4 linked regions of the Homo sapiens genome follow. The protein of the gene in region 4 purifies or fractionates together with the protein of the main gene of each other region. This does not show direct contact. Each region holds a gene or a part of one and is shown on either strand. Other genes may lie near its edges.

What was found.
Region 1: the proteins of H2BC1 (region 4) and TCF20 purify together in Homo sapiens (affinity purification with mass spectrometry; 4 studies listed by BioGRID and IntAct, with this or other methods). This does not show direct contact.
Region 2: the proteins of H2BC1 (region 4) and MIER1 purify together in Homo sapiens (affinity purification with mass spectrometry; 4 studies listed by BioGRID and IntAct, with this or other methods). This does not show direct contact.
Region 3: the proteins of H2BC1 (region 4) and TONSL purify together in Homo sapiens (affinity purification with mass spectrometry; 4 studies listed by BioGRID and IntAct, with this or other methods). This does not show direct contact.

What each region holds. Positions count from the first base shown.
Region 1 is NC_000022.11:42,260,200-42,268,298, forward strand, and holds part of TCF20 (transcription factor 20), read right to left. Parts: intron 1-8,099. UniProt on the Homo sapiens protein: Transcriptional activator that binds to the regulatory region of MMP3 and thereby controls stromelysin expression. It stimulates the activity of various transcriptional activators such as JUN, SP1, PAX6 and ETS1, suggesting a function as a coactivator.
Region 2 is NC_000001.11:66,955,644-66,963,742, reverse strand, and holds part of MIER1 (mesoderm induction early response protein 1), read right to left. Parts: exon of another isoform or gene 5,685-8,099; coding exon 5,523-5,684; intron 4,893-5,522; coding exon 4,760-4,892; intron 4,065-4,759; coding exon 4,000-4,064; intron 656-3,999; coding exon 583-655; intron 1-582. UniProt on the Homo sapiens protein: Transcriptional repressor regulating the expression of a number of genes including SP1 target genes. Probably functions through recruitment of HDAC1 a histone deacetylase involved in chromatin silencing.
Region 3 is NC_000008.11:144,427,259-144,434,494, forward strand, and holds the end of TONSL (tonsoku-like protein), read right to left. Parts: intron 7,022-7,236; coding exon 6,720-7,021; intron 6,502-6,719; coding exon 6,330-6,501; intron 5,203-6,329; coding exon 5,027-5,202; intron 3,894-5,026; coding exon 3,820-3,893; intron 3,280-3,819; coding exon 3,146-3,279; intron 2,079-3,145; coding exon 1,885-2,078; 3' UTR 1,517-1,884; downstream 1-1,516. UniProt on the Homo sapiens protein: Component of the MMS22L-TONSL complex, a complex that promotes homologous recombination-mediated repair of double-strand breaks (DSBs) at stalled or collapsed replication forks.
Region 4 is NC_000006.12:25,721,296-25,728,373, forward strand, and holds H2BC1 (histone H2B type 1-A), read left to right. Parts: upstream 1-5,481; 5' UTR 5,482-5,613; coding exon 5,614-5,997; 3' UTR 5,998-6,050; downstream 6,051-7,078. Other genes in the region: H2AC1 (histone H2A type 1-A), read right to left, coding at 4,837-5,232. UniProt on the Homo sapiens protein: Variant histone specifically required to direct the transformation of dissociating nucleosomes to protamine in male germ cells.

The sequences.
Region 1 (8,099 bases), on a different chromosome or scaffold from region 4:
AATGAGCTTGAGGAGTTCAAGAAACAAGAGGGAAGGTGAACAAACCTGTAGCTTAGAGAGCAAGAAGGAGACCAGGTCAAATGGTTTCAGAAGGAGGCAAAGGTTAGATATGACCCTGTTGGCCACCATATGAAAGCAATGAAAGACCACTGGAGCATTTTAGGAAGGCAATTGACATAATCCAATTTGAATTTTTAAGAGATCACTTTAGCTGATAAGTGGAAAAAATGGTTTGGGAGGAAGGCAAAAATAGGGGGTAGGAAAAACAGGAAACTAATAATACAGTTCAGATAAGAGGGTATGGTTCTTGAGATGAGAGGGAACAAATTCATGAGAGATACATATATGTATATGGTTTTTGTGAGGCACAATCACAGCTCGCAGATGCAATACGCCCACCTCAGCCTCCCAAGTAGCCGAGACCACAGATGAACATCACCATGCCTGGTTAATTTTTAAAAAATTTTAGAGACAGGGTCTCACTGTGTTGCCCAGGCCTTTCTTAAACTCCTGGACTCAAGCGATCCACCTGCCTTAGCCTCCCAAAGTGCTGGGATTACAGATGTGAGCCACCACGACTGGCCCAAACTTATGTTTTGAATATAACGCGAACAGAACCTGCTGAGCAATTAGATGTTGAGAGTGAGGGGGAAAAGGAATCTAGAACAATTCCTGGGTTGTTTTTGGCTGCAGGTTACAGGTGATTTTTACAGTCAAATCACATACAGCATATGATTTAATCAGTTTTGATGAATGCCTATCAAGACCTAACCATTTCTATACTCTAAAAAGTTCCCTCACATCTTCTCTTGGTCAATCCCTTTCTACCCAAGAAGCAACACCAATCTGAAATCTAGTACATAAATAAGTTCTGCCCATTCTGGAATGTCCATTAAGTGGGATCACCCATTACATATGATTTTTGGTTTTTCACTGAGCATATTTGTGAGATTAATCCTTATTACACGTATCTGTAGTTTGTTCCTTTTTGTTTGTGGTCTTCCATTGTATGAACATGCCAATTTGTTATCTACTGTCTCGCTGATGGACATCTGGACTGTTTAGTTTTGGTTATTATTTGGCTATTAATATTCTTATGTAAGTCTTATTTGTGGACATTTTCATTTCTCTTGGATAAATACCTAGAAATTAAACTGCTGGGTCACAGGGCAGATGTATGTTCAACTTTTTGAGAAACTGCCAGTTTTCCAAAGTGGTTGCATCATTTTATACTCCCATCAGCAGTGCATTCAAGTTCCAGCTGCCTGACTCCTACGTGTTTTGCTTAAATAACTCTTACCTATGCCACAATCAAACTCACAGTCTTTCAGCTCTTCAAACATATTTCATTCTACATTTTTTTTTTTGAGACCTTTGTGGATGCACTCAGGATACATTCCTCCTTGCCCCATCCCCTTTGCTGCCTCTTATTCATTCAACAAATATCCTGAAGGATGAGAAAAAGGCTAGGCTTGCCAGAGTGCTATGGATACAGGAAACAGTATATAAAAAAGTTCCAGATGGTGGCTCACACCTGTAATCCCAGCACTTTGGGAGGCCGAGGTGGGCAGATCACGAGGTCAGGAGTTCAAGACCAGACTGGCCAACATGGTGGAACCTGTCTCTACTAAAAATACAAAAATTAGCTGGGCCTGGTGGCGGGCGCCTGTAATCCCAGCTAGTCGGGAGGCTGAGGCAGGAGAATCACTTGAACCTGGGAGGCGGAGGTTGCAGTGAGCAAAGATTGAGTCACTGCACTCCAGCCTGGGTGACAGAGCAAGACTCCATCTCGAAAAAAGTTCCAGAGGTGGGAAAGAGCTTGCTACCTTCTGGGGCCTAAAAAAAAGTGAATGTGACTGGAGGGCCGTGAACAAAAGCAGCAGGAGGGTCAGAGAGGCAGGCAGAAGCCAGATTATTCTGGCCCTTGTGAACCATGTGGGGGAGTTTGGAATCTAAGTGCTATGGAAAACCATTAAAAGATTTTAAGCAGACACATACGACTCTTGGCCGCTCTGGGTGAAGTGGAATAGAGGCAGACACCAGCAGAAATGAGGCGGCCATCATCATGTTCCAGGTAAGAGGTAAAGAGGGTAGTGGCAGTACAGATGAAAGAAGTTATCATCTTATGGAAATAGCACTGACAGTAACTTGATGATAGATTTAGAGGTAGAGGGTGGTGAGAGAAAAGGAGGAATCTGATTTGAGAAACCGGGTAAACGGTAGAGCCCCTTACAGAGTTGGGGACAAATGCAGGACAAAGAGTTTGTGAGGAATAAGTGTTCAGTTTTGGACTTAAGCTCACAATACCAGTGAGATGGTCAAGCCGCTGTGTCGAGCAGGAGTTGAAGGCGCTAGAAGACATCTAGCTGAAGATGTGAATGTGGGGATCATCATCTTATGAACAAACAAAAGCCTGGGGAGATCAGAGATCACCGAGGGAGAAAGGACACTGAAAAAATAGGGTCTGGAGAATGCCAATGGTCAAGCATAAGAGGACAAACAACCAGAGGTGGGAAGAGACACTGAGCTCAGCAGGCTGATGAGGAAATACATGGTCCCGCTCTGAGAACCCTCCAGTGACCTCTCAAGTCAGGGTTATACACCTGGTACAGCATCTTCTATTCCCCTTATGAGAATACTTTTGATAACCCTATTTAATTGCCCTTCTCTACTATATACTAGGCCAATATTTGAGAACATAAAATCAACAGAATTAGCACGGACCAGCCCTGCTCTTAGACACTGGACTAAGACCAGTCCAGTGTCTTAGTACATAGCACAACATAGACTGATGGTTTAATGGACAGCTACCATTCTGAGTGCCACCTGCAGGCAGTCCACTTCACCATATACTTTTCCTATTTTAGTGCCTTCCCCCAACAGCCCAAAAGAAGATATATCTCCGTTGCACAGATAAGGAAACTACAGCTCAGGCAAAATGCCAAAAGTCACTGATAGCAAGTGATGGAGCCAGGATGAGGTTGCACATCCTCCTTCACACGCTCTGCTGCCTTCCATCACGTGGACTTTCTTCAGCAATAATATCCTCTCACATCACTACCAAAGGGATACAGAATCTGGCCTCAGGTAATTGGTCTCCCACAGCACTAAGTCAGGGAAACGCCCAGAGAAGTACCCCTGCTTGACTTCTCAAGAATCCCTATTTCTTGCCAAGCACAGTGAACATTCTCCAGACTCTCAAAGTAGTGCTTCATCCTTAGGGCACTTCTAAATGCAGCAGTGAAATCTGGCTTCCCTGAAACTGAGGTCTGGAGGTAAGCTGCTGGAGCCTTAACTCTTTTTCAATTCTAGAAACCCATTTTAGCCACCTATCAGGAGTTTCACCCTACATCCAAAAGGCCTCACTCTAAATGAACTAAATCTGATCATGGCCAAGGAAGTTTCTCCATGTCACCTATTTTGGACCAAGGCATAATTAGGATGAGAGAAACCAATGGGGCCTAAGAAGACAACACTACACATCTTTGTGAAAATTAACAGCAGTACAATTTTGTCTCTGCTTTCAAGCTTGATGTGTGCCATCTCTCCTTGATATCTTAAGATTGGAACTACATAGGCTTTTTCCTAAGCGAGTACATTAACACCCAGGAGCTTCCTTTTTCCACTCAAGAGCCACTGTGAACTATGCTGGTAAGAGCGTGGGGCATAGATGGCAAAGAATAGGTCCTACCCTTGATTCTGTCAGTATAAAGCCACATAACTTTGGGTAAATGACCAGCCTCTTGGCATCTTCCTGAGTTGTAAAGCCAAAGGGTTAGACTAGACAATTTTTTAGGTGTCTTCCAGCTCTAAAATTCTATAATCAGAGAGTATGGAAAGGATGGGAGAAGGCACGCTGGATGCCAGCTGGCTGGGAAAGACTGAGAGGATGAGCCCTCCTGGCTATGGTTAACAAAGCCTTTCTGATCCGCACAGTTCCCTCCCTTGCCAGAGCCTCTGCTTAGAGCTATCCTTGCTTTCCTTGACATCCCCACCCCCCTACCCAAACAGAAGATCCCCAACACAGAAACATGAACACATCTACAGGTCTAGATCTAAAGTGGGGCGGGGGCGGGGCGGGGGCAGGGTGGGGGAGGGGGGAGAAACAGACATAACCAGAGAATGTTTCCTACACTGTCTAACACTCACCAATATTACAATACATCTCCACATTTTTTATCAGGATGATTTTTTAAAAAAAGCAGACAACACTCCTCTTTCTTAGCCTTTACAAGGTACCACTAATGATCTCCCTTAAGCTCTTTTGAGCCAGGTCCCTATTCACAAACCAAAAAGATATAAACAGAGGGAACACTTCAACCAGCCCACTTCCATCCTTTGGATTAACTTCTCAAGATGCTCAGGGCTAAACAAATTATTTACTTTGTTTAATGTCATTTTCATCCAGCCCACAGATCAAGTTCGACTGCCCTACTGGCAGAAAAGGCTTCAGAACAGGGATTATCTTTGTGACCACTCTAAAGTAACATCCCCTGAGTTATTTCACATTGTTTTCTTATTTTCTTCACCGCTATTATCATCACCTGACATTTTTATTTACTGTTTACAGTCTGTCTCCAGAGTAGGCTCTTTCTTGCCCACCATCACATTTCCCATACTTAGAATGCCTGTAAATACTTGTTAATGCAAATTAGCACACACATGCACGCGGACCTTAATCCACATTCAGGGACATGACATTCAAAAGTGGAAACCATCTTCCAATCATACTGATATCAAATGTTCCAATGAATTTCTACTCTTTCCTATAGAACAGCTTACATATGCATACTGCAATAATGATATTTTCCCTAGTAGTTTTAATTCCCCACTATGAAACACCAGATAATAAGCCACGGATATACCAGCTAACTCATGTTATAGTTCATCTTCCTGCTGGGTCACGCATATTACCCAAAAAGCAAACATTGCTCTTACACAGAAAGTACTGATTGTGTTTGTCGCCATGAGAACCTTTTCACCCATACCACATGTACCAAGGGTATTACAGGACTTTCAACAGCCTAACCAATAATCAAAAACTATCCAGTGCAATGTGACCAAATTATGCTCTACTAACTATAAATACCTTGATTTCAGTATACTGTATTCTTTTTCTTCTTTTTTTGGACAGGATCTTGCTCTGTCTCCCAGGCTGGAGTACAATGGCAACAACATGGCTCACTGTAGCCTCAACCTCTCAGGTTCAAATGATCCTCACACCTCAGCCTCCTGAATAGTCTGGACTACAGGCACCCACGTCACATCTGGCCTTTTTTATTTTGCAGAGACCAGGTCTCACTATGTTGCCCAGGCTTACTGTATTTCAAAGGTATCACTGTCATGTACCGTTTTACTTCAATGGTTTTATTGTTTTGCTTTATCTTGTTACTTTTTTACCTCCACAAAAAGAAAATGAAGACAGCAGAGACAAAGCCCCAGACAGAATGAATGAGTACTAAGGTGCCTTGAACACAAAGTCCCCATGAGTAAGAAGGCTTAAGGCATACTGTGGAAAGAACTGTCTTTGGTAAATATATCTTTTGAGTCCCACCCAGTCGAACTGAGTGAGAGCAGTCACCATACAAAATGATTCTAGTGCATTGTAAACTAGTCAGGAAGAGATAGCCCTTTACGTATTATGTTACTCTTTAAGCTGATACCAAAGTTTTCAGCTCAGGACAGAATGACGGAATTAAGTATGAAAAGAGAAATTTTTTCACAGATTAAATCTCAAGTACACTGGCAAAACTGACCAAGTATGGGCAAGGTAAAAGTTTAGGGAACTCCCAGGGGGTCACAAAACCATAAGCAGTCACAAAAACCACCCTTTCCAGTATTTCACCTAAATCTAGATTTCAGGTTCATCATAGCTTTAAAATTAAAAAAAAAAAAAAAGAGGGGCACAGCAGGAAGATATGGATTCCAGGGCCGCACTTACCACTGACTGATTTGTGCCTTGAGCAGGCAACAAACCTAGTACAGCACAGGCTCTGGAGCCAACAGCAGGAGGGTTATATCTAAGCCTTGAGCCTCATTAGCTCTACCAGCTCTCAGGGAAAGGAAAGGTCATCTATCTCTAAGGTCAGCTGGGTGGATATTGTAACACAATTTAAAATGCCTTGGACAGAGTCTAGCACAAAAGCTTGTTTTTTATACAAATGCCAGCATTTTTTCCTGCCTATATGAAAGGTAGGTTGGACTCATGAGAAAAAGTCCAACTCCAATTAAGTGTGATCATTTCAATTACATTCCATTTTATCTTACAGAGTTTTAAAAAGTTGGCCAGGTGCAGTGGCTCATATCTGTAACCCCAGCACTTTGGGAGGCTGAGGCAGGCTGATAACCTCCTGACCTCACCTGAGATCAGGAGTTCGAGACTGGCCTGGCCAAGATGGCGAATCCCCATCTCTACTAAAAATACAAAAAAATAGCCAGGCATGGTGGCAGGAGCCCGTAATCCCAGCTATTCGGGAGGCTGAGGCAGGGGAATCGCTTGAGCCTAGAAAGAGAAGGTTGCAGTGAGCAGAGACTGTGCCACTGCACTCCAGCCTGGGCAACAGAGCGAGACTCCGTCTCAAAACAAACAAACAAAAAAGTATACCACTACTAGGTTATGGAACCTAAAAGCCATGTCTCCCGATATCTTACCAACTTTGGCAACCTCTCACGTGAATACACACAAATTACTTTGTAGAATGAAAATTTTATAACAATTTTTTCCCTTGTAAGTTTTATAAGACAAGTGTAATATACATGTGAGCATGATAACTGCTTACAATTTAATAGGCCGGGCACGGTGGCTCATGCCTGTAATCCCAGCACTTTGGGAGGCTGAGGCAGGCGGCTCACCTGAGGTCGAGTTTGAGACCAGCCTGACCAACATGGAGAAATCCCGTCTCTACTGAAAATACAAAATTAGCCAGGCGAGGTGGCGCATGCCTGTAATCCTAGCTACTCGGGAGGCTGAGGCAGGAGACTCGCTTGAACCCTGGAGGCTGAGGTTGCAGTGAGCCAAGATCGCACCACTGCACTCCCAGCTGGGCAACAAGAGCGAGACTCCATCTCAAAACAACAACAGAAAAAACAAAACCAATTTGAGTAATCGGAGTTTTTTTAAACACCACACTGAACGCAAGGTCATAATTCAAATCCTAACAAACTGTTTATTCTAGAAAATCACAAATAATCTGTGTGGCTATATAAAAGTGTCTACTTGTGGGCTGGGCATGGTGGCTCATACCTGTAATCCCAGCACTTTGGGGGCCCAAGGCGGGTGGATCATGAGGTCAAGAGATTGAGACCATCCTGCCCAATATGGTGAAATCCCATCTCTACTAAAAATACAAAAATTAGCTGGGCGTGGTGGTGCGCACCTGTAGTCCCAGCTACTCAGGAGGCTGAGGTGGGAGAATTGCTTGAACCCGGGAGGCGGAGGTTACAGTGGGCCGAGATAGTGCCACTGCACTCCAGCCTGGCAACAGAGAGAGACTCTGTCTCAAAAAAACAAACAAAAAAGTGTTTACTTGTGTGATAGGCCTGATGGTAACATACAAGAAAATTACTACCAAACTGTCTCCGAAGTCAATAATTATAAGCACTCTGCCCCTATGCTGGGATCCTTTTGGAAACTGTTCAAAGAGACTGAATCAAAAAGTGATCTAGCCCAGGCGCAGTGGTTCACACCTGTAATCCCAGCACTTTGGGAAGTCAAGGCAGGCGGATCACCTGAGGTCAGGAGTTCAAGACCAGCCTGGCTAACATGGCGAAATGTTGTCTCTACTTAAAATACAAAAATTAGCCGGGTGTGGTAGTGTATGCCTCTAATCCCAGCTACTCGGGAGGCTGACGCAGGAGAATCACCTGAAACTGGGAGGTAGAGGCTGCAGTGAGCTGAGATCGTGCCACTGCACTCCAGCCTGGACAACAGAACAACACTGTGTCAAAATAAATAAGTAAATAAAAGGGGATTTAATTTTAAAAATTAAATAATATATAAAAATAAAAAGTGATCTGAGAAAGACATATTGTAACATATTGGGCTCATATCCGGCCCAGCAGCACAGTTCTAGAAATTTAAGACAAATTCTGAGGTTGGT
Region 2 (8,099 bases), on a different chromosome or scaffold from region 4:
AGAGACGGGGTTTCACCATGTTGGTCAGGCTGGTCTCGAACTCCTGACCTCATGATCCGCCTGCCTCAGCCTCCCAAAGTGCTGGGATTACAGGCGTGAGCCACGGCACCTGGTCCAAAGTACTCCATTTTAATAAGCACTCCATTTTGCTTAGTGAAAGTTTCAGGAGCAAATAAGCTGTTTATATCAGTTATTTACTCTCGTTTGTTTTTATGCCTTTCATTGATATAAAATGGACTTCTAAAAACTAAATTATAAAGATTAGAGAAGGGTTAAAGTTTAGAGCACTGAAAATACGGGGAAAAAAGTAAAAAAAACTGTTGAGACATTGTAAGTCACTTTAAAATGAAAAAAAGCATTCACTTTTTCCTTTTTTGGCTAGGCTTCTATAGACCAAACTGAAAAAATTGAGTACACACATTCTTCTCACAGAAATAATGAAGGGTCCTCTTTCACAAACCAATGGGGTTACAATGGGGTTACTTAGTAGGCTGTCATGTTCTTATCACATTTTACATATAAAGTAACAGTTCATTACACTGAAAGCATAAATTCAGCTACGTAACTTTACTAATAACCCACCTTTTTCATTTTCTTTGTATCTACAAATGCCAACTGGAATTTCTGCTTGAAACATGGAGCCCACCATAATCTCCTATTTTAAAAATAACATAAAACATTAGTAAGATCTAGTAACAGATTTTATATCCATTTTCTAGCCTTACCATCTTAGTAAACTGTTCCTGGTTTCTCTGTCATAAAATACAAAAACAACCAATTAACTACCTCAGAGGTACCTTTGTGAAGATGAATGACAAATAATGACTGGATGAAAATATTAGTAATAATACTGAGGTGAAATGCAACGTAAACAATAAATACAAACTTTATTTCAAAATATAGAGACAAAGAAGTGAATTCTGATAATTCCATTAGTAAGACAACTGCAAAACATGTAAAACACAAAGTCAAATTCAGATATTTTCAGAGTATCTACACTTAAGACAGTGGTCTTAAATATGATCCCTATATGAGCAGCATCAGTGTCATCTATGAAATTTTTGTTTTTTTGAGACAGGGTCTTGCTCTGTCACCTAGGCTGGAGTGATCATGGCTCACTGCAGCCTCGACCTCCCAGGCTCAAGCAATTCTCTCACCTCAGTCTCTGAGTAGCTGGGACTACAGGCACATGCCACCACACACAGCTAATGGGAAACTGTTAGAAATGCAAATGCTCAGGTCCCACCCCAAACCTACTGAAACTCTGGGGACAGGACTCAGTCATTGGTATTTTAACAAGCTCTCTAGGTGATTCTGACATAGACTGAAGTCTGAAAAACAGAGCTTCAAAGTAGGAAAAATAACAAAAAGGGTTTGTATAAAGCTCAGTAGGGGCCAAATGAAAGAAACTCTAAATGAAATAGATAAGCAGGTTATGGCTTGACTTTCATTAAAACAATACAAAATGAAAAAGTAACCTCCTCCCACAAATATAATTAAATAGGAAATCCAGTAATCATATCTATACAGTCAAATCACAGATTAGGTGAAACTGGATGTTCTCAAAAGCAACTGCAAACTACCACTGGTGAAATTTCACAATGCAAGGAGACCAAGATTACATGAACCCTCTTTTGTGTGATGGCTAAATGTTAAGAACACATTTACTGACATTTTCAAAATTGGGCATGAAAGGTACAAAATCATGGTCTAGAAGTTTTGGTAACTCTTAGGATTTGGAAAGTCTCTCTCCTGCTATTGTTACCTCACTGATGTGAGGAGCTCATTTTATCCAGTACAACTTCAAAGACGTGCTTTATGTAATAAAGTTATTTCTATACCCATAAGAAAAACCAATCTTTCTCATGATCAGTTTTCTAAAAAGAATCAAACTTACAACAAATTTTCTCTACCCTTACAATGGAATTCTCTTTATGTCTTCTACTATAAAAAGAGTCCTTTATTGTCACATCTTGTGCCTCTTTTAACTTAACTCACCTAGGCCTACCAAAGAACATTGTCAAGTTACTAACCCTGGCTGGGGTGCTTCTAAACCATCAATGCCTGGATCCACTGCAGGACAATTAAATTAGAATCTATGAATGAAGGCCCTGGTAGTCAGTACATCTAAGTTATCCAAATGATTCTAACATAAAAACAGGGTTGAGAACATCTGGATTAGTTTAAAGATAGGTACTTCCTTTTTCCTGTTCAGTTCTGAACATTTCTTTTCATCTGTTAATTTGTTCGGTAGTACAGGGAAGGGAAGGGAAATAGCTTTGAAGATCATTATGTGTTAACATATCATATATGCAATTTTCCTTTAATCTTTCAGCAAGCCCCATAAGGCTGACATTGTTATTCCCATACTATATGTAAGAAGATGAAGCTCAAAAATTTGATTTTCTCAGGAGCACACAATTACTAAGTTCTAGAGCTACAACTAAAATTCAGGTTTGACTTCAAAACTGTTTCCCCTACCTTAAGTTTCTATAAAAACTCAATTTCATCTTATAAGTCTTAAAAAAAAATGAATCTCTGAACCTTGACAATTATTTAAAACAACAAAATCATACTGAAAGAAAACAATCTGCATTTACTCTGGCCTGCTTTATTACATAATTTTTTTCTGAGAAAGGTGTGGTTAATTAATACCCTTTCTGAGTAAGGTGTGGGTAATTAATACCCTCCAGCAATGAGAGGTGTTCTACCTCTGAGCTTTTGTTCTTTCATTTAAAAAAAAAACACTGAATGCTTAATCAAATACTCTACTGAACACTCCAGATTAAAAAACAACACATGTTGAAGATACATAAACTTGAATATGAAGTGGGACAGCAATTTATAAGGACTCCCAAGGTTTCTAGCTTTTTTCATCTTAATTTCTGCACACTGTAGGAATCAGATTAAAAACAGGATGAAAGAACCCTTGCCCAAATAGGCCACACAAATTAACTTTTGTGATTCTTGTTTTCTGTCGAGTCCCATCATTTGCTCAAATTAACACATACCGTAAACTGGGCTAACCTTGTCTCTCAACAAAAATAACATTATTTCTTTGTTTTAACCAGTTCTACATAAAAAATTTTTTTGAAGACATGGGGTCTCACTATGTTGCCCAGCCTGGTCTCAAACTCCTGGGCTGAAGTGATTCTCCCTACCTCAGCCTCCCAAGTAGCTGGGACAACAGGGGAAACATCACTGCAACCAGCTAATTCTACATAATGTTTAGATAGATTTTTCCTAAGAGCTCAGTTCTTTTACAATAACTTACAATTCTTTAACTTAACTGTATGATTAATTATATGCTATATAATTTTATAATTAAAAACTAATCTCAATATATTATCTTTAGATTCATTTCAGAAATTAATTGTATATAGTTACGAAGAAGCCAAATCTGTTTCTTCATATAATAAGCTTATCAGTTGTAAATGTCAACATTAAATTCAATCATTTGGAGAGTTTTTCTTTTATAAAGTAATACAGAATGAAAAACTTGCAATATGAACTACTAAACAAAATTTACTTAACAAATATCAAAGCCTCCACAAATGCTTTCCATAATATTGAAAAACATATACGTGATACTTTTTACAGGGCAACAAATGCCTAATTTGGCACTAGTTCAGGACTAAATCAGAAATGTGGATTTCTGTTTTATTTATTTTTTGTTTTGTTTTATAAAATGAGACAGGGTCCCGCAACGCTGCCCAGGCTGGTCTCGAACTCCTGGGCTCAAGCGATCCGCCTGCCTCAGCCTCCCAAGTGCTGGGATAACAGGCGTGAGCCACCACACCCCGCCAGAAATGTAGATTTCTAATCTAACCTAGATGTGTTAAGAAGGAATCTGAACATTTACCAAACATTTAAATGTCATAAAAGGGCTTACATCGATTTTATCAATATACATAGTTAGTAAAAAAAAAAATAATTACACGAGGCTTTTTAAAAAAATATTAATTTATCTAAATTTTGGGAAAATATTGTTCTAACTACCTTTTTCCAGTCTTCTGATGGAATATAATCTTCATCTTCTTCAGATTCTTCTTCTACTTCACTATCTAGAATAAATAAGACACCAATACTATAAAATGACTGCTTATCCTGTCTAAATCTACATATTATTTTTACATCTACCATCAAATATTTGGATATGCTCAAAGATATCTAATGAATTAAGCCAAGATATTTCTAACCAAATAATTAACACCCTATCACTTAAAAAAACAAAACCAAAAAAACCATAAACTTTCTACATAATTGTATTCTCATGAAATGATTTCCTATAAAAACTTAGGGGAAAAAACTGATTTAGAATAAAGATAATATTATCTTACTACATATTTCATGACAGTTTATTTTTCTTCAAGTGTTTTTCTTCCTTTTAAAGTAGAGAAATTTAGGTGTATTTATGAATATACCTAAAAAAGGCTAAGAGGCAAAGAAAGTAAAAAATGGAAACTAAGGGAAAGACTATGAGAAACAAAAAGATGACCATGAAACAAACATTTAAAAACAGGGCAAAGAAAAAACAAATACACCCAAAGTCAAGTAGTACATGACACAATTACCATAGTATATTCACTAACAACAGGGACCCTGCATTGCTAAACTAATAACTTACAACAAAATCCATTTACTGTTGAAAAGAATTTCAGACTAAATGAATTCAAAGACCAGTTTAAAAAAGAGGATTTTAGGTAATACCTAAAATAGTAAAAATTATATTCAAATATTATCAACCAGTAACACTTACTTGTATCAAAATATTTACATCGACGTGGGCGGATTATTTCCTGGGCATCTTGAGAAGCAACAGATTGTGATGGATCATCATTGGAAGACTGAGTTTCATCCTCCTGACCTGATGAATCCTTTATATTCTCCTCCTGTGGAATAATAAATTAAATTTCTCTAAGATGTAAGGAAAACAGTTGCAGATGAAAGACCATAGCATATAAATTTTGTTCTAATATATGCAGAAGACTAAAATGAATATACTAGATGTAGTATCATCCTCTGGGTTGGTTCCTGCAACAGGAAAAAGTACATTAGCAGAAAAACTGGTATAATTCAATCTGCAGTTTAGTTAATAGCACTGTACCAAGATGTTAACCTTAGCAGAAGTTGAGGTAAGAGTATACAGGAACGTTCTATACTAACTTTAAACCTTTTATAAATCTAAAATTATTTCAAAATAAAGTAAGAAAAATAAACACAAACTGCCAATTAGCCTTTATTATTTAAAAGCAATAGCATTTTTTTAGAAAGTTGGTATAAATTAATTAGAATAAGCACTGGAAAAAAAGAAACCTGAAATGACAAGACCAAACTGTTACCTCAGGAGTAAATTACAGGGGATTTCCAATTTTTATATTATGTATTTCTGTAATATCTTAATTTTTAACACTTTTAAAATCAGGAAAAGATTATAAAGACAAGTAATCAAAATATATTAAGCAATTTTAACTTCAACAAGAATAAAGACTACAATCTTAAATATATGTATATAGACTTACTTTATTTTCCCCACTACAGCCACTGTTGTCATCATTATCAGCATCTTCATCATCTTCACCTTCTTCTTCCTCTTCTTCCTCTTCCTCATCTTCTTCAGGTAGTCGAACAGTACTACCATAACCATAAAGGCTGAGAAGTTCATGAATTGGCATGTCGCCTTCCTAAATAAATCAAAATAAAAGGTAATCTCTGAATCAGTGATATTTCTGATTCCCAGGCTATAATCCACAAATCTGTGGAGTATTCATTCTATAGTGAAGAATAAAAGCTGTGTTACGAATTCTCGGATCATAAAAAGTAAAACTGAAAATATTTCTGAAACCTAGGAATATCCCAATCTTTTAAGTATTTCTATAAAATGAACCAGTTATAATTGCTGACAACAAGATCTTTAAGTATAATTAAAAAGTGGCCTTGGTCTAACATGGACTATTCTTTTTGCAATCAATTCAGTATATGCACAATGACAGTTAACGCTATGCATGGATGCCCACTCTTAATAAGAGTACCATACTTAACTTGAGGGTGGAGAAATAGAACAATGAGAAATAGACTATAAGTTAACAAACCCAGAAAGGCAGACGAAAATTCAGAGCTCAGCCCGAACACATGAAAAAAAAAAAAAAAAAAAACACAAACAAACCAGTAGTAATATACAGAAATGATAATGGACTACATTAACCATATATTCTTCTCTATGGTTATCTCCATTTACATATAAAATCATCTCATGAAATCCTTACCATCTATCATACGGACTTGTTATATTATTTCCATTTCATAGATGCGAAAACAGAGGCTGACAGGTTAAGCATTTCTTCACAAATCACACAAGTTACAAGTAGTAGAGCCAGATTTAAACAGTCTAACTCCAAAAGCCCATATTCATATCAATACACCATGGTGCCTTGGGCAGGGACTTCCCTCAATCCCCACAAAAATCAGACCCTCCGTGGATGAAAAAGAAATGTCCATACACAATGAAATGAAATCAGCTTTCTATACAAACTACTCACTCTAACCAGTAAACAAGAAATGCACAGCATCAGGGAAACATAACAGAATTCTGATTATAAAAAGAAAATTTAATCCAAATCATGTGAACATATTATACACTCATGCACACCCACATACAATGCACATGGTCTGAAGCAAAACAGTCAGAAAACAATCAGTTTAGAAGCTAGAAAAAAAAGGGTAATCATGAAATAAGACATGGTTTATGTTTCTCCAGCAGTCATGGAAAGAAGTAAGTCTAGCTCATGTGTTAAACACATTGCTACAATGGATATGGGTAAATCAGACTGGATTAGATGATACAATTAACCTGCATCACTCAAAATCCATGTGTGGGAAGAAATTAATGATTATCATTTGAAAAGATTTTCTTAGGAAGAACTAGGAAGAAACTGTCATCCAAAACTTCTATTTCCCATTACAAATGGATATTCTGGTTATGAATGAGTTTGTGAATCTATTTCTGAAAGATAAATCAATTCCAAGACCCCTAATGATTTGCAGAAGCTACAACCTGAAAAGCGGTAACTTTATCAAGGCAAGGTATTGCCACTCTAGCTAAATAACCAGCTGGCAAACAAATGACAGCTCTTACACTGTGTCTCTCAAAGTACAACACCAACAGTGCTTTAAGTGTTCAAGTATCTGGTCCATGTACCAAGAATCTGGTACAGGACATTGGTATTTGGGAATCTGGAGAGTCAATACTCAGGAACTAAAACAAAACTTCAAAATAAGAGATAGAAGTGTAGTAAGAGAAATATAATGAAAAGGCTAGATTTATTTTTTGAGACAGGATCTTGCTCTGTCACCCAGGCTGGAGTGCAGTGGCATGATCACTGCTCACTGCAGCCTCAACCTTCAAATGATCCTCCCACCTCAGCCTCCCAAGTATCTGGGACTATACATGTGCACCACCATGCCTGGCTAATTTTTGTATTTTTCATAGAGAAGGGTTTCACCATGTTGCCCAGGCTGGTCTCAAACACCTGGATGCAAGCGATCTGCCCACCTTGGCTTCCCAAAATGTAGGATTGGAAACATGAGCCACCGTGCCCAGCCTAAAGCTAGTTTTATATACAAGAATAACAAATAGCTGTCATAAAGTATCTTCTATGTGTCAGGCATTTATGATAGATGCTTTGATTTCACTGTCTTTTTCTCTTGCAACCATGAAAGCAGTGTCAACACACACAATTTCATTAGATCTTTAGAAGTACCAAATGGAGTGCTTGCTACCTTTATTTGCAAATAAGGAAACCAGGCAGAGAAACGTCAGGCACTGATACTTTATTATAATACCCAGACCTCCTAATCTCAGGTCATGTAACGTTTCTTAAGCTCATATCCTGCACCCCAAAATCAGAAGCAAGTTTAGCAACTGATCACTATTGTGAATAAAAGCCACTGAAGTCACTAGTATGAATAAGGGCCCCAAAAGGAAAAAAACATAAGCGTTAACAGTTTGCAACTGAAATTTACATAGGCCTTAAGAGTTCATGAAAAGCTTGTTTCATTATTTATTTGATCCTCAAAACTATCCTGTTAACCACTACCTT
Region 3 (7,236 bases), on a different chromosome or scaffold from region 4:
ACTGCACTCCAGCCTGGGAGACAGAGCAAGACCCTGTCTCAAAACAAACAAACGAACAACAAAAAAAACCGACAAAAAAAGACAGCCCGTAAGTGCCAGGTCCTGGAGACCCAGGGCTCCATGAAGAGCTCTCCTAAGCTCAATAATGGTGAACACACAGGGTGCTATAGGGGCTACCAGAAAAAGTGAGGTACTATGGACACTCAGGAGAGCGGGGCGGGGGCTGCAGTGGAGTGTGGTTCAAGCTGGAGGTTGAGGGAGGTTATGAGGGCGGCAGGCAGCTGTTTGATGGCCCACGAGGAGAGTTTGGGGCACAGGAAACAACACACTTAACAGCCCGCCTTTAAGTAGGCATGAACTTGGAGGAACCAACAAGCTGAAGGTGCAGCTTCTCGAAAGAGGGGGTCCTAGGGAATGAAGATGGAGAGGTGCCCCTAGTTGGGCAGCGAGCTGTGGAGAAACAATGGGAGCGGGGCCCGTGGGAGGGTCCTGCCTAGCACGGAAGCTGGGCCAGCTCCAGACGTTCTCTCTTTGAAAGTGGAGCCGTCAGATCCGCCGAGGGATTTGAGATAGGATTAAAATAAAGGAGTTACGAACGACACCCCTGTTTTTGGCCCAATGGGCCGGGCAGTAAGATAAACTCAGACGGAGAGGGGAGGAGGAGCGGGCCTGGCGGGCAGGCGCAGGAAGCTCTCGGTGGAGAGGCCCGGGAGAGCAGCGCTGAGCCGGCTAACTGGGAGTGGACGGTGCTACCGGGGATGGGAGAAGAGCAGAAGTGAGGGAAGGCCGCCCGCGCCGAAGCCCTGGGGCGCCCCAGCCGAGGAAGAGCCGGGAAAGGGCGTCGCCGCTCATGTAGGTAGGGAACGTCTGGGTCAAGCTCTCCGAGGGTCGAGGCCATTGCGAGCCGCGGGGTGGGGACCGAGGCTGCTCGGCAGCCGTCACGGAGCCGCCAGGCAGGAGAGCGCCGAGGAGCCAACCGCCCCAACCACGCAGGAGCTTCTGCCTAACAGCGAAAGCGGACGTTCTGCGGCCACAAGCAAATGTGCAAAACAACCTCGCAGAGTGGACAACGAGCAAGGAAAGCCAGTTTCTAGAACATGCCAATAACGTGACTTTTGCGGCGCTCAGCCGAAGCTGTGCCGGGGCCTAGGCGCGCCCAGAGGGTGCCAGGCCCTGAGTCGCCTCTCCCCACTCTGCCCCTTCCCCGCCCACCGGCCGGGCCCCGGGTACCTGGACGGCTCGCGGTCGGGAAGATGGCGCCGGGGGCGGGGTGCGCTCGGTCAGCGACTCGGCATTCGCCCCTCATGTCTGCGCCTGCGCGCGTCGGGGCGACCCCCCGCCCCTCCGTCCCCATCGGCAGCTCGGCGCTCAGCCCTCACGCCTGCGCCCGCGCCCGCCCGGACTTCGGGACATTCCCTCCAGCCGCGCAGCCCCCGGGACGTAACCGGCGCAGCAGACTCGAAGCCCGGTCTTACCCCGCCCACCCGCCTGCCAGGCAGCCACGGGGAGGGAGGCAGCAGCTTCATTTATTTTATTTTTTTTTTTTTTTGAGACGGAGTCTCGGTCTGTCGCCCAGGCTGGAGTGCAGTGGTGCGATCTCGGCTCACTGCAAGCTCCGCCTCCCGGGTTCACGCCATTCTCCTGCCTCAGCCTCCGGAGTAGCTGGGACTACAGGCTTCCACCACCACGCCCGGCTAATTTTTGGTATTTTTAGTAGAGACGGGGTTTCACCATGTTAGCCAGGATGGTCTCGATCTCCTGACCTCGTGATCCGCCCGCCTGGGCCTCCCAAAGTGTTGGGATTACAGGCGTGAGCCACCGCGCCCGGCCAGCAGCTTCATTTATTAGGGGCTTCGGTGAGGGTGGGGAAAGGCAGCGCCAGGGTCAGAGGCGCCGAAAGAAGAGCTTGGAGCCGTGGTCCAGCGTGCACTCGCCGGGGCCCGGCCGACTGGGCTGCAGCTGGCGCAGGGCGTCCCTGTCCTCAGCGCAGAGGCGTCTGCTGCACAGCTGCAGTTCCCGGAGCTGCGCGGCTATCTTGTCCCACAGGCCCAGGCCCAGGGGACCCTGGACGGCGCAGCCTGCGGAGGGGAAGAGGGCAGACCTCAGCGCTGCGGGGGCCGGCGGCGTCCTGGTGCCCGCGGCAGGCTCCAGGGAACAAACTCGCTTTCGCTGAGGGCCCCAGGGCTGTAGCGAGGGGCAGTGGGCAGAGCTCCGGAGAGGCCCCATGACTCTCCAGGAAGGGGTGGGATCATCTGCACAGCCAGCGGTCAGACAGGAGGAAGGGTGGCTCCCTTCTTTACCTCTGACAGTGCCCGATCTCAAAGTCCATGCCTACACGTCAGTCTCCCCACCCATAAGAAGGACATAATGGATCTGCTTGCAAATCTGTACATCGTGGGCCTGAGTGGATCAAGAGAACACTAAGCTCAGGAATTCAGGGAGCTGGGTGGGAAGGTACAGATGCCAGGAACTGAGGTGTGGGGAAGGGGTCTCACACCAGCACTCGGGGGCCTTCCTGGAAAAGGCGGCCTGGCCCTGGGAGGTGAAGGGGAGGGGGCACAGGAAGAAAGCAGAGCCCCGCTTCGTGCACATTCACTTAAGCCCTCATCCCCTGGAGGGCACAGCCTGCCCCGGCCCCAGTGGGGCAAGCCAGGTCATCAAAGCCCTTCCTGGGGTTGTCTTCCAGACAGCTCAGGTTGGGGACTGCCCTGATGTGGCTCAAGAGAGAACAAGCTAAATCAGACCACAGCCCTGGGCAGGGTTGTGTCAGAGGAGCCCCTGCCAGGAAGTAGGAGGGTCCCTTGGCAGCTTTCAACACCCTGACCTTGGGATCCCTTTTCCTGCCAGGGACAAGAAGAAAGTCCCTGTGGAACAGGGTCTTGCCTACCATAGTCTGCTCTGAAGGTTGGGTTGGAGAGACCAGAGGCAGATACCCACCTCGCCCCCTAACCCATGGTTTTAGGAGCTGGGATCATGCCCCTTTTCTGTCACTGTCACTCTGCCCCCTGCTGCCCCAGCCTCATGGAGCCCAGCCTTGCTGCCTGGCTGGTAGCAGTGACAGCCCCTTAGGAGGAGGCACCTGGGTCTCAGGCAGGTCCCTGAAAAGGCCGAACATGGCAGGCGTGGCCACCATACCAGCACTCACCTGACAGGCCAAGGAAGCTAAGGCCTTGGGGCCGCTTTTGGAGGGTGGACAGGAGCTCTTCCAAGCTGGCACAGCTGATCTCAGGGTTGGCAGACAGATCCAGTGAGATGAGTGAGGGGCACAGAGAGAGACATCTGAGATAACATGGGAAGAAGTGCAAAGGTTGGCTTCCAGAGAGGCTGTGCCCCAACACTAGGAAAGCTGCCCAGACAAATGCCAGCTCAGGGAGCCTCGGGCCAGACCCAGGGGCTCTGCCTCAGCCTGGCCCAGTAGCAGGTGGCCCTCTAGGGTTGGGGGTCCTTCCCAGGGGTCAGGGCCACAGTGGCCAGCTCTGGGTGTGCCTGGCCCAGCTTGGGCTCCTCTCAACACTCCCCAGAGAGCTGACTGAGGCTCCAGGTCATAAGAGCAGTGCCCTCATGTGGGCCGAGGCACAGGAATGACAAGGACACCCCCGGAGGAGTGCTCTCAAGAGCCACAGGCCCATGCTAAGAAAGAAGCCAGAGGGTAGTCTGCCTTCCAGGGCAGCCTGAGAGGCTGGTGGAAACCGAAGGAGCCAGGTCTTGGGATGTGCTGGGGAGGAGGAGCTGGTACCATTTCTGTGGCCCTTCTCCCATAGGGTCCAGAGCCATGAGATCAGACCCCCAGGTCAGCAGGCAGCAGGGAAAGGGCGTTACCTGCACAGGTCTCTAACAGCCTTGTCCCCCAGGTGGTTTGCAGACAGGGTCAGGTGGGCTAGAGCACAGCCTTCCTGGACATGAGCAGAGGCCCAAGGGGGCCAAACGGAGTGGCGCACCTGCCCTGCCTGCTTCCCAGCAGGTGCACCACACCCAGGGGCCCAGAAGGGAGCAGAGTCCCCCATCAAGTTGGAGATCGGAAGGAAACACCTCTCCTGATGTGGGTCACACTCTGCACGTGATAGTGTGAAAATAATAGGGTCCCAGTTGTGCCTGGAAGACCCCCCAGGAGAGAGCATCAGGGGCCCTAGTGTGCCCCTTGGGACCTTCCTGGCGGGGGGCAAGATCACCCTGAGTCCCGGGTCCTATCTGGTGGGCAGGAATTCACAGCCTGAGACAGGCAGCTGTACAAAAGCATTCCCCCAGCTGTTTTTTTCTTTTTTTGTTTTTTTTTTGAGACAGAGTCTCGCTCTGTCGCCCAGGGTGGAGTGCGGTGGCGCCATCTCGGCTCACTGCAAGCTCCGCCTCCCGGGTTCACGCTGTTCTCCTGCCTGTCTCCCAAGTAGCTGGGACTCCAGGAGCCCGTCACCACGCCCGGCTAATTTTTTGTATTTTTTAGTAGAGATGGTGTTTCACCATGTTAGCCAGGATGGTCTTGATCTCCTGACCTCGTGATCCGCCCGCCTCGGCCTCCCAAAGTGCTGGGATTACAGGCGTAAGCTACCACGCCCAGCCTGTTTTTTTCTTTTTCTTTCTTTTTTTTTTTTTTTGAGACGGAATCTCGCTCTGTCACCCAGGCTGGGTGCAATGGTGCAATCTAGGCTCACTGCAACCTCTGCCTCCCGGGTTCAACCAATTCTCTGCCTCAGCATCCCGAGTAGCTGGGATTACAGGTACCCGCCACCACGCCTGGGTAATTTTTGTATTTTTACTAGAGACAAGGTTTCACCATGTTGGCCAGGCTGCTTTTGAACTCCTGACCTTGTGATCCACCCCCTTCGGCCTCCCAAAGTACTGGGATTACAGGCGTGAGCCACCGCGCCTGGCCCCCCAGCTGTTTTTTCTAAACCTCCAAACCTCTAACTCTCTCTGTAGAGCCCCTCAGCGAGTTCAGCCCGAATCTGGGGAGAGGCGAGCTCCTCCCAGCAACCCTGGGACCTTTGGCCTCTGAGGCTCAGTATTTTCTGGGTTCTTCCCCACCTCGTACCTTGGCCAGGTATCGGAATACAGGCTCCATGAGGTCCGAATCACCCTTGCCGGCTGCCACGGAGCTGAGCTCTAAGTGCAGGAGGGTGCCGGCGGGCAGGCTCTGCAGGGTCCTGGCCAGGGCAGGGGCTCCCAGGGCGTTGTAGGACAGGGACAGGGTCTTCAGGTGCTCAGCATCTGCACCGGGGCCAGAATCCGTCAGCCCCACGTGGCCACAGCCCTGTACCCACCCCAAGTTCTGGGCCCAGAACCCTCAGGACCCCTTTGGGGAAACCACTACCGCAGTGCTCGCAGGGTGGGGTGGCAAGTGCAGAGGCAAAGGCTCTCGCCCAGATTCTCCCAGCTGGGAGGGCGGGGCCAGACTTCCAAGCTCGGCTGCCCCCAGTTCTGGACAACTTGCCCTCTCCCACCCCACAACCACACGGTCCTGGGCCACATGCCTCTGCACAGTGGGGGTGCCAGGGGAGTGCACTGACCATTGCTGCCCCCCTTACACTCCCCCTGGATGACACCCAATTCCCAGCCTCTTGGCACTGGGACCCCAGTCTCTGCAGCCTGAGTGGGCTCACAGTGGAACTGCCTCAGGCGAACAGCACTCAGCTGGCGAGCACGGGATGGGGACCACAGGACACTAGCTGCCCGGACTCTGCTCTCGGTGTGTCCTGCGGGGGTCAGCCTGGCTGGGTGGGCACCAGACGCCCCTCGGAGGCAGACCCTGTACCCACACATCCATCTATTGCTCCCAGGTGCCAGGCCCTCCCGGAGAGCCAGGTCTGGCATCCCAGGCCCCTAGACGTTGTTTGTTTCGTTTTTTTGACACGGAGTCTTGCTCTGTCGCCCAGGCTGGAGTGCAACGGCGCGATCTCGGCTCACTGCAAGCTCCGCTTCCCGGGTTCATGCCATTCTCCTGCCTCAGCCTCCTGCGTAGCTGGGACTACAGGCACCGGCCACCACGCCCAGCTAATTGTATTTTTAATAGAGACGGCGTTTCACCGTGTTAGCCAGGATGGTCTCGATATCCTGACCTCGTGATCTGCCCGCCTTGGCCTCCCAAAGTGCTGGGATTACAGGCGTGAGCCACTGCGCCCGGCCTAGACGCTTTTTTCTTAAGGGATGGGGTCTCACTATGTGGGCCAGGCTTTCCTGGAACTCTTGGCTCAAGCGATACTCCCGCCTCAGCCTCTCAAGTAGCTGGGACCACAGGTGTTGCCCCTGTGTGCCCAGCCTGGGCCCCCTCTGAAAGTCCTGGAAACCCTCAATGCCCCAGGGCTAGGGAGTGGACAGGGAGTGCCTGGTCAGCTCACCTTGGAAAGCACTACCCAGTGCTGTCTGGTGGCTCAGAAAGAAGCTGGGGCCGAAGCCACACGCCTGCAGGCGCAGGGTGCTGAGTAAGGGGCAGGCGTGCAGGAGGGAGGCCAGGGACTGGCCACAGCCGTCCCCCAGGGGGTTCATGCTTAAGTCCAGCTCCTCCAAACTCTGTGGAAGACACAGGCTGGCAGTGAGCCCCCAGCAGTCCCACGGACAGGGTCCCCCTTGGGGCTTGGCTTGGCAGTCTCTTCCCCACCTTGCCTGGCATAGCCTATTACAGCCGGGCACTGGCTGGCTCTCCCAACTACCCTAGACCACCCAGGGACCTGCAGAATGGGAACCCCAACTCCCCGCTGTTGAGGGCCTGCTGCTCTCTGTGCCTATACCTGCAAGGTGGCTTGGCCTGGGAGCCCCATGGCAAGCTGGCGCAGGCCTTCGGGACCCAGGTGATTGGAGGAGAGGTCAAGGAGGGCCAGGCTGGGCATGGTGCCCAGGGCAGCCACCAGCTCAGCCACACACTTGTCCCCCAGCCGGTTCCCTGCCAGGCGCAGCTCCCGGAGTGCTGTGTGCAGCTTGAGGGCCCGCAGCAGGGGTGTAAGCTGGGCCTGGTCCAGGGCCAGGGAGCAGGCGCTGAACGAGAGGCCCAAGCCCTGGAGCTCCACGGCCTGCAGCACCTGTTGGTGCTCCCCTGCGGGAGGGATGTGATGTCACCAGGGTAAGGCCGGCCCTTTCTGCCCTCTGAATCCCAGAGGGCAAACCAGGCAGCCCCTTTTCAACAGCCCCAGGGGTCACCCACCAGACTTGCTGTAGAGCCCACTCGCACATGCCTGTGGGTCTAGCACTGTGAGGCCCTGGGGGCCGGGGTGGGTCTGCAGCACCCTGAGCTCCACCAGTCACTGCCAG
Region 4 (7,078 bases):
TTAAGCATATAGATGACAATTAATAACATACATTTTAGAGACAGATAGAAACAGAGGCATACTGGTAGACTGACAGAGACACAGTAAGAGGTTTATGGTTTTGCTATTAAACTCATGAATTATGCTTTAGTGTGTTTTTAACATTCCAATATGTGGTAGGGGTGATTACCTTTTTCCAAGACAGACATATTAAAATATACACTATAATTGTGAATGTATTCTTTGTCATACATTTCTGCTGTTTGTTTTCTATAAAGCTGTGTTTTGGGGTGTTAACACAATGAGAAATAGTGTATCTACCTATATTTTCCGCTTTTAATTTTCAAATTACTTTTTCATTAAATATTATCTCTGCCATTAATTTTGCAAAATAATTTTTTTGGGGGACAGTTTTGTCTGGAATGTAATTTTTCCACTCCTTTTCTTCTAAATGTTCTTCTGTGCCAATAAATTTTAGGTATTTTATAACCAAGGTATAGCTGTGTTTTACTCCTAGTCAAATACTGTCTTTTAAATGGCAAATTTAATCGGTTAAACTTCATTTTGATATTTGGACTCATTTCTAATGTTTGACTTTGCATTCTAATTTGTCATGCCAGTCCTTTCTGATTTCCTGCTTTCCACTGGACTATTTTTTTTTTTTGCTATTACCTTCTTTCTAGTCTACATTAATTTTATTATTTTAGTGGTTACATTTAATATCATAAAATATAAACCTGACTTAAGAAAATATAACAATCAGTATGTCTGTCCTCCTTATAAACAGTACAAGGACATCAACATGCTTTAATTTGTTTCAGCCCCTTTCATCTTCTGTAACTACTCTCCAGTGTTTTTGGTTTTTTTTTTTAATATTCTAGTATTATTGTAGGTTTTTTTTTTTTTACAACTAGTGTATTTATTTAGATAGATTTATACTTTTACCTCTTCCTTTGGCAATATTATTGCTTATTGCATCTCAGTCTTTCTTCTGAGTTCAGTCTTTTTATTTCAGTACATTCTTTAGCATTAATTCTTCTAGTATGAATCTGAGTGGCAAAACTTTCCAATCTTTGTCCAAAAATTATTTCACCCTTACACAAAAAAGAGTTCATCTGAGCACAGAATTTTAAATTGAAAGGTATTTTGCTTTAGAACTTAGAAGGTGTTATTCTATCGTTCCATGACTTCTGTGATTTCTGATGAGAAATCCATAACATTGTAGTGGAGGAAGCAAAACTTTACTTCTACCCTCAGGATATTTTGGTTGGGTTTGAGAATTAAATTGACATGAGAGGTCAACAGGAGAAAAGCATATAAATTTATTGAATGGAAGTTTTACGTGGCACAGGAGTAGGAAATGAAGACCCGAAGACAAAGAATGGAATGCTTATGTGAAGAATCTGACAAAGTGAAGTAAGTTGTGAAAATGTGACAGCAAAGGGGCTTGGGTTAGAGTAATTAATTAGGTGGAGAAGTGACTAGAGAGGTAAGGGTTGGTGTAACAAGGTTTATTTGTACAGATTTTCCTTGGCCTTAATTTTCTGTCCTTGATGAGAATGATACTTTCCTTCTGGTATAGGGAGGGCATCTTTCATCTCCTGCTTTTAAGAAACAAAAGGAAGGTCAGAGTGTATGTGCATCTGCTGTTTTTCAAGTGTCTATCTCCAAATAGTCAATATGTCAGAGTGACATATTTTGAAATGGTGTGTTCTGAATTCCTTCAACGTGATTTATCATAAAAAGTAAAAGGAGGCTGAGCATGGTGGCTCATGCCTGTAATCCCAGCACTTTGGAAGGCCGAGTCGGGCGGATCACCTGAGGTCAGGAGTTCGAGACCAGCCTGCTGAACATGGCAAAACGCTGACTCTACTAACAATACAAAAAAAAAAAAAAAATTCGCTGGGTGTGGTGGCAGGCGCCTGTAATCCCAGCTACTCAGGAGGCTGAGGCAGGAGAATCGCTTGAAGCCGGGAGGCGGAGGTTGCAGTGAGCTGAGATGGTGCCATTGCACTCCAGCCTGGGTGATAAGAACAAAACTCCGTCCCTGCCCTCCCCACCCAAAAAAAAAAAAAAGTAAAGGGAAAAAAGTGGCATATATTTGTCTCAGTTGCTGCTGAAGTTTTATTGTTAATAGCCAATATTTATTTTTAATTAACAACTTTTAGCAATTTTGGAATTACACAAATCCCATAAAAACCCAGCATTAGGCATAAGACAGTGTCATATTAGTCTGATTATAATAAAAAATAAGTCAGCCGGGCATGGTTGCTCACGTCTGTAATCCCAGCACTTTAGGATAAGGCCAAGGTGGGTGGTCAGGAGTTCGAGACCAGCCTGGCCAACATGGTGAAACCCCGTCTGTGCTAAAGATATAAACATTAGCCAGACATGATGGTACATGCCTGTAATCCCAGCTACTTGGGAGAATGAGGGAGGAGAATCGCTTGAATCCAGGAGGCAGAGGCTGCAGTGAGCTGAGATCAGGCCACTGCACTCGTCTGTGCGACAGAGGAAGGCTGTTGGGGGGGAAAATAAGTCAATATCACCATTTTTATTATCACGTGTAACTATTAGACAATGCATTTAGACAAAGTCAACTATTTAAAACAACAGGACAAAATTATATGATTTTTCTGCCTACCTGGAAAACCACAGAGGAAAAAAGCTGGACAACAGAAATGACAGAATAAGGAAGGAAATACAAACCAGTACGAATATCAAGAATGTTCTATCTGTAAAACATCGTCAATCAGAAAACATAATAAAAGAAACCCTTCTAATATTTCCCCAAAATACAGTAATAAAAAAGAATACCTGGAGATAAACTCTATGAAACGTGTGAAAGTTCTATAAGAAGAAATCAAGGCTGGGTGCGGTGGCTAACACTTGTAATCCCAGCACTTTGGGAGGCTGAGGCTGGCGGATCACCTGAGGTCAGGAGTTGGAGACCAGCCTGGCCAACATGGCGAAACCCTGTCTCTACTAACAATACAAAAGTTAGCTGGGCGTGGGGCAGGCGCCCGTAATCCCAGCTACTCAGGAGGCTGAGGTAGGAGAATCACTTGAACCTGGGAGCTGGAGGTTGTAATGAGCCGAGATCACGCCACTGCACTCCAGCCTGGGTGACAGAGCGAGACTCTGGCTCCAAAAAAAGAAGAATCAGAAACTTCTGTAGGTAAATTGTTTTGAAAAATCAAGGGGGCATGTCTCCTGTAACATGTATTCACAATTTTTTAATATATTTTATTCTATCTAAACATTTAGTTTAATGCAATTTTAATAGGATTGCATTAGAGATAGAAATAAAAGTATTATGTAGTGCATTTGGAATAAAAGAATACACAGGTTCTCTTCTATAAAGTCAAGTCCCTCCTCCTCTGCCTTGGCAAGTCTGAGAAGTTAAGTGCCACTTTCTTGACAAAGTATCTACATTAATTACTTGGAATTCATCTGTTTAGGTTTGTCTTATATCCTGATTTTAAGTTTTACATTTGCCATGTTCTAAATATTACCCAGTTTTATTCAACATATAGTTGCCATTTCTGTTTTCAAATATCTTCAATTTTTGCCGTCCCTAACTGCATCCCTTATTTATTATGTATGCAGGTTAATTCATACTTTTGTAACTTGATTGTCCTTACTCGGCATGTTTTATTTTATAGAACTTTACCTGCTTCTATACATGCCTTATTATGTGTAGACATCAAGTGTTTAGCAGTTTTTTTTTTGGTAACCAAATGATTTTTTTTTTTTTTGAGGTAAGGTCAACTGTTGAATATCGTACAATAATTTTTAATTTAGTTATTTGGCAGCGTTACTGAATGGGTTTTGCTTTTCACTTTCTCTTGGTGTTTACAGCACAAACTGCAAACACAGATCAACAAACTATTTTGCCTCTTTTCAACAGTCAAAACTTTTGAAGCATATACTCTTCCAAATTTCTAAACTTCAAATTATGTTCGGCCTTCTAGTCCCATTCCTGCCTGAGTCTAACACTAGTATCTCACCATCACATATGGCGTAAGGCTTCTTTTTGACATATTTTACTTACATTTTAAGAAATAATTCTATTATTCTTTACAAAGTACGTGAAACCACAGGTATCAAATATATATGCTTACCCAAATTTTAAGATTAACTTACTTACATGCCACATTTAATTATGAGTATTTCGTGAAACTACCATATTTGAAAGGAAATTCTCTAAAATGTACTTTAACCAGCCAGACTGATGTTACCTGGATTTAAACAGGAAGATTACACCTCTCCTGCTTGTAATGCAATTTTCACTTCCATGTGTAACCCTTAACATAACTAACATACATAAATCTAGTTTGAGATAGTCTCGCTCATGTCACCCAGACTGGAGTGCAGTGGAGCAATCAATCTTCGTTCACTGTAACTTTCGCCTCCCGGACTCATGAACAACCCTCCCACCGCAGCCTCCCGAACAGCTGGGACTACAGGCCTGCATCACCAGACCCAGCTAGTTTCTGTGGGGACAGGGTCTCAATTATGTTAACGGTCAAGCCCCAGGCTTGAACGACCCTCCCGCTCCAACCTCCACTGAAGTGCAAGTACTGACTGCTCACAAGCGTTAAGCCACCTCGCCCAGTGACATATATAACCAAAATTACCTCAAACTAATGGCCGATGGAACGCTCCTTGAAAATTCAGTCCCCGTACATTCCCGAAATGCGCTTAAACGGGCATTTGTGACAGGCAAGTAAGATGGCTGGTTAACAGCAGTAACGTTTTGTAACGTACAGCCTTTTTCTGAGACGGTAGGTGGCTCTGAAAAGAGCCTTTTGTTTTTTCTGACACAGAAGTCTTTTTACCAATGACAACCTTAAGTTACTTGCTTTGGGCTTTATGGTGGTGACTCTCAGTCTTCTTGGGCAGCAGCACTGCCTGAATGTTAGGCAGGACTCCGCCCTGGGCAATGGTCACGCCGCCCAAAAGCTTATTGAGTTCCTCATCATTGCGGATCGCTAGCTGCAGGTGGCGGGGAATAATGCGAGTTTTTTTGTTATCGCGAGACGCATTGCCTGCCAGCTCAAGGATTTCTGCTGTGAGATACTCTAACACTGCCGCCAAATACACTGGTGCGCCTGCCCCTATCCGCTCTGCATAGTTTCCCTTACGAAGCAGACGATGGATCCGGCCTACGGGAAACTGCAAACCCGCTCTAGAAGAGCGAGACTTAGACTTGGCGCGTGCTTTTCCTCCCTGCTTCCCTCGTCCAGACATCTCCTCGCATCAAATTGCAGCAACACGAGAACCACATTTCTAGGGCTGCTACTGGGCCTATTTATAGTCTGACTGAGGTTGGCATTTGCTATCTGATTGGCTGATGGCCGTCTACCCAATCAGAAAGTCGTACTAGAATCGCCTCATTTGCATTCACGCCACTTCCCATTGTCCAATCAGATTTTGGATACCGAACGCGGCGTTTGAGGGCCGTGCCTATAAATACCGCATCTTTCATCCTCCAGTTCTGTTTGTTTACTTGGCGAGACTTGGAGCTGAGGTCATTTGGAGCTGTTTAATACTGAAGAGCTGTTGAGCACTGGAAAGTGCTGTGTAACCCTGGAAAAGAACCGTGTAACGCTGCAGAAGTGTGTGGTAGCTATGCCGGAGGTGTCATCTAAAGGTGCTACCATTTCCAAGAAGGGCTTTAAGAAAGCTGTCGTTAAGACCCAGAAAAAGGAAGGCAAAAAGCGCAAGAGGACCCGTAAGGAGAGTTATTCTATTTACATCTACAAAGTGCTAAAGCAGGTCCATCCGGACACTGGCATCTCTTCGAAAGCTATGAGCATTATGAATTCCTTCGTCACTGATATCTTTGAGCGTATAGCGAGCGAGGCATCACGTTTGGCTCACTACAGCAAGCGCTCCACCATTTCTTCCAGAGAGATTCAGACAGCAGTGCGCTTGCTACTGCCGGGAGAGCTGGCTAAACATGCTGTGTCTGAGGGCACCAAGGCTGTCACTAAGTACACCAGCTCCAAGTAAGCCTGCTAAGTAAACGTCATTTCTAACCCAAAGGCTCTTTTCAGAGCCACTTAAACATACTGAAACAGCTGTGGGCTTCGTTTTTGTGTAGTTTCTAACCGTAAGGGTTTTTTTTTTTTTTGAGGCGGAGTCTCACTCTCCCAGGCTGGAGTGCAGTGGCGGAATCTCGGCTCACTGCAAGCTCTGCCTCCTGAGTTCACGCCATTCTCCTGCCTCAGCCTCCTGAGCAGCTGGGACTACAGGCTCCCACCACTACACCCGGCTAATTTTTGTATTTTTAGTAGAGACGGGGTTTCACCATGTTGGCCAGGATGGTCTCAAACTCGATCTGGTGATCACCCACCTCGGTCTCCCAAAGTGCTGGGACTACAGGCGTGAGCCACTGCGAATATATCCAAATCAGCTGTGGGCCGAGGGTAGACGAACTAGTTGCAGCAAGACAATCCTTGCTAGGCACCGTGACTCGCCTGTAATCCCAGCACTTGCAGAGGTCGAGGCTGGCGGTTCATGAGGTTAAGAGACGGAGACCATCTTGGCCAACAAGGTGAAACTCCGTCTCTACTAAAAATACAAAAATCAGGTGGGCGTGGTGGCGTGCACTGTAGTCCCAGCTAATTGGGAGGCTGAGGCAAGAGAATCGCTTGAACCCAGGAGCCGGAGATTGCAGTGAGCCGAGATCGTCACTGCACTACAGCCTGGTGACAGCGAGACTGTCTCAAAAAACAAAACAAAAAAACCCCCTAGTTTGTATAAAAGCTACATGCTGATACTGGTATATTTAAGGTTAGCATTACACATAATAAAACTAAAAAGCGCAGCGACATAGACAGTATAACTTGCATTATGATCCCAAATTTTAAGACCTCACAAAAAGGGAATAGTTTAGAGGAAGTTACGTTTTGTGCCACAGGTAAGTCAAGGTGTGGAAATGATTGTGCGAACTCTGGAGAACTCACAAATCTGGTTAGCAGGAATTAAACGGATTTAAAATGTCCCTTAATTTTCTTAAATTTATAATAGTTTCCTTCATTGTCATGTTACTGGTTGTTGGACTCCATCTGTAAGAGCTCCCAAGCATTAA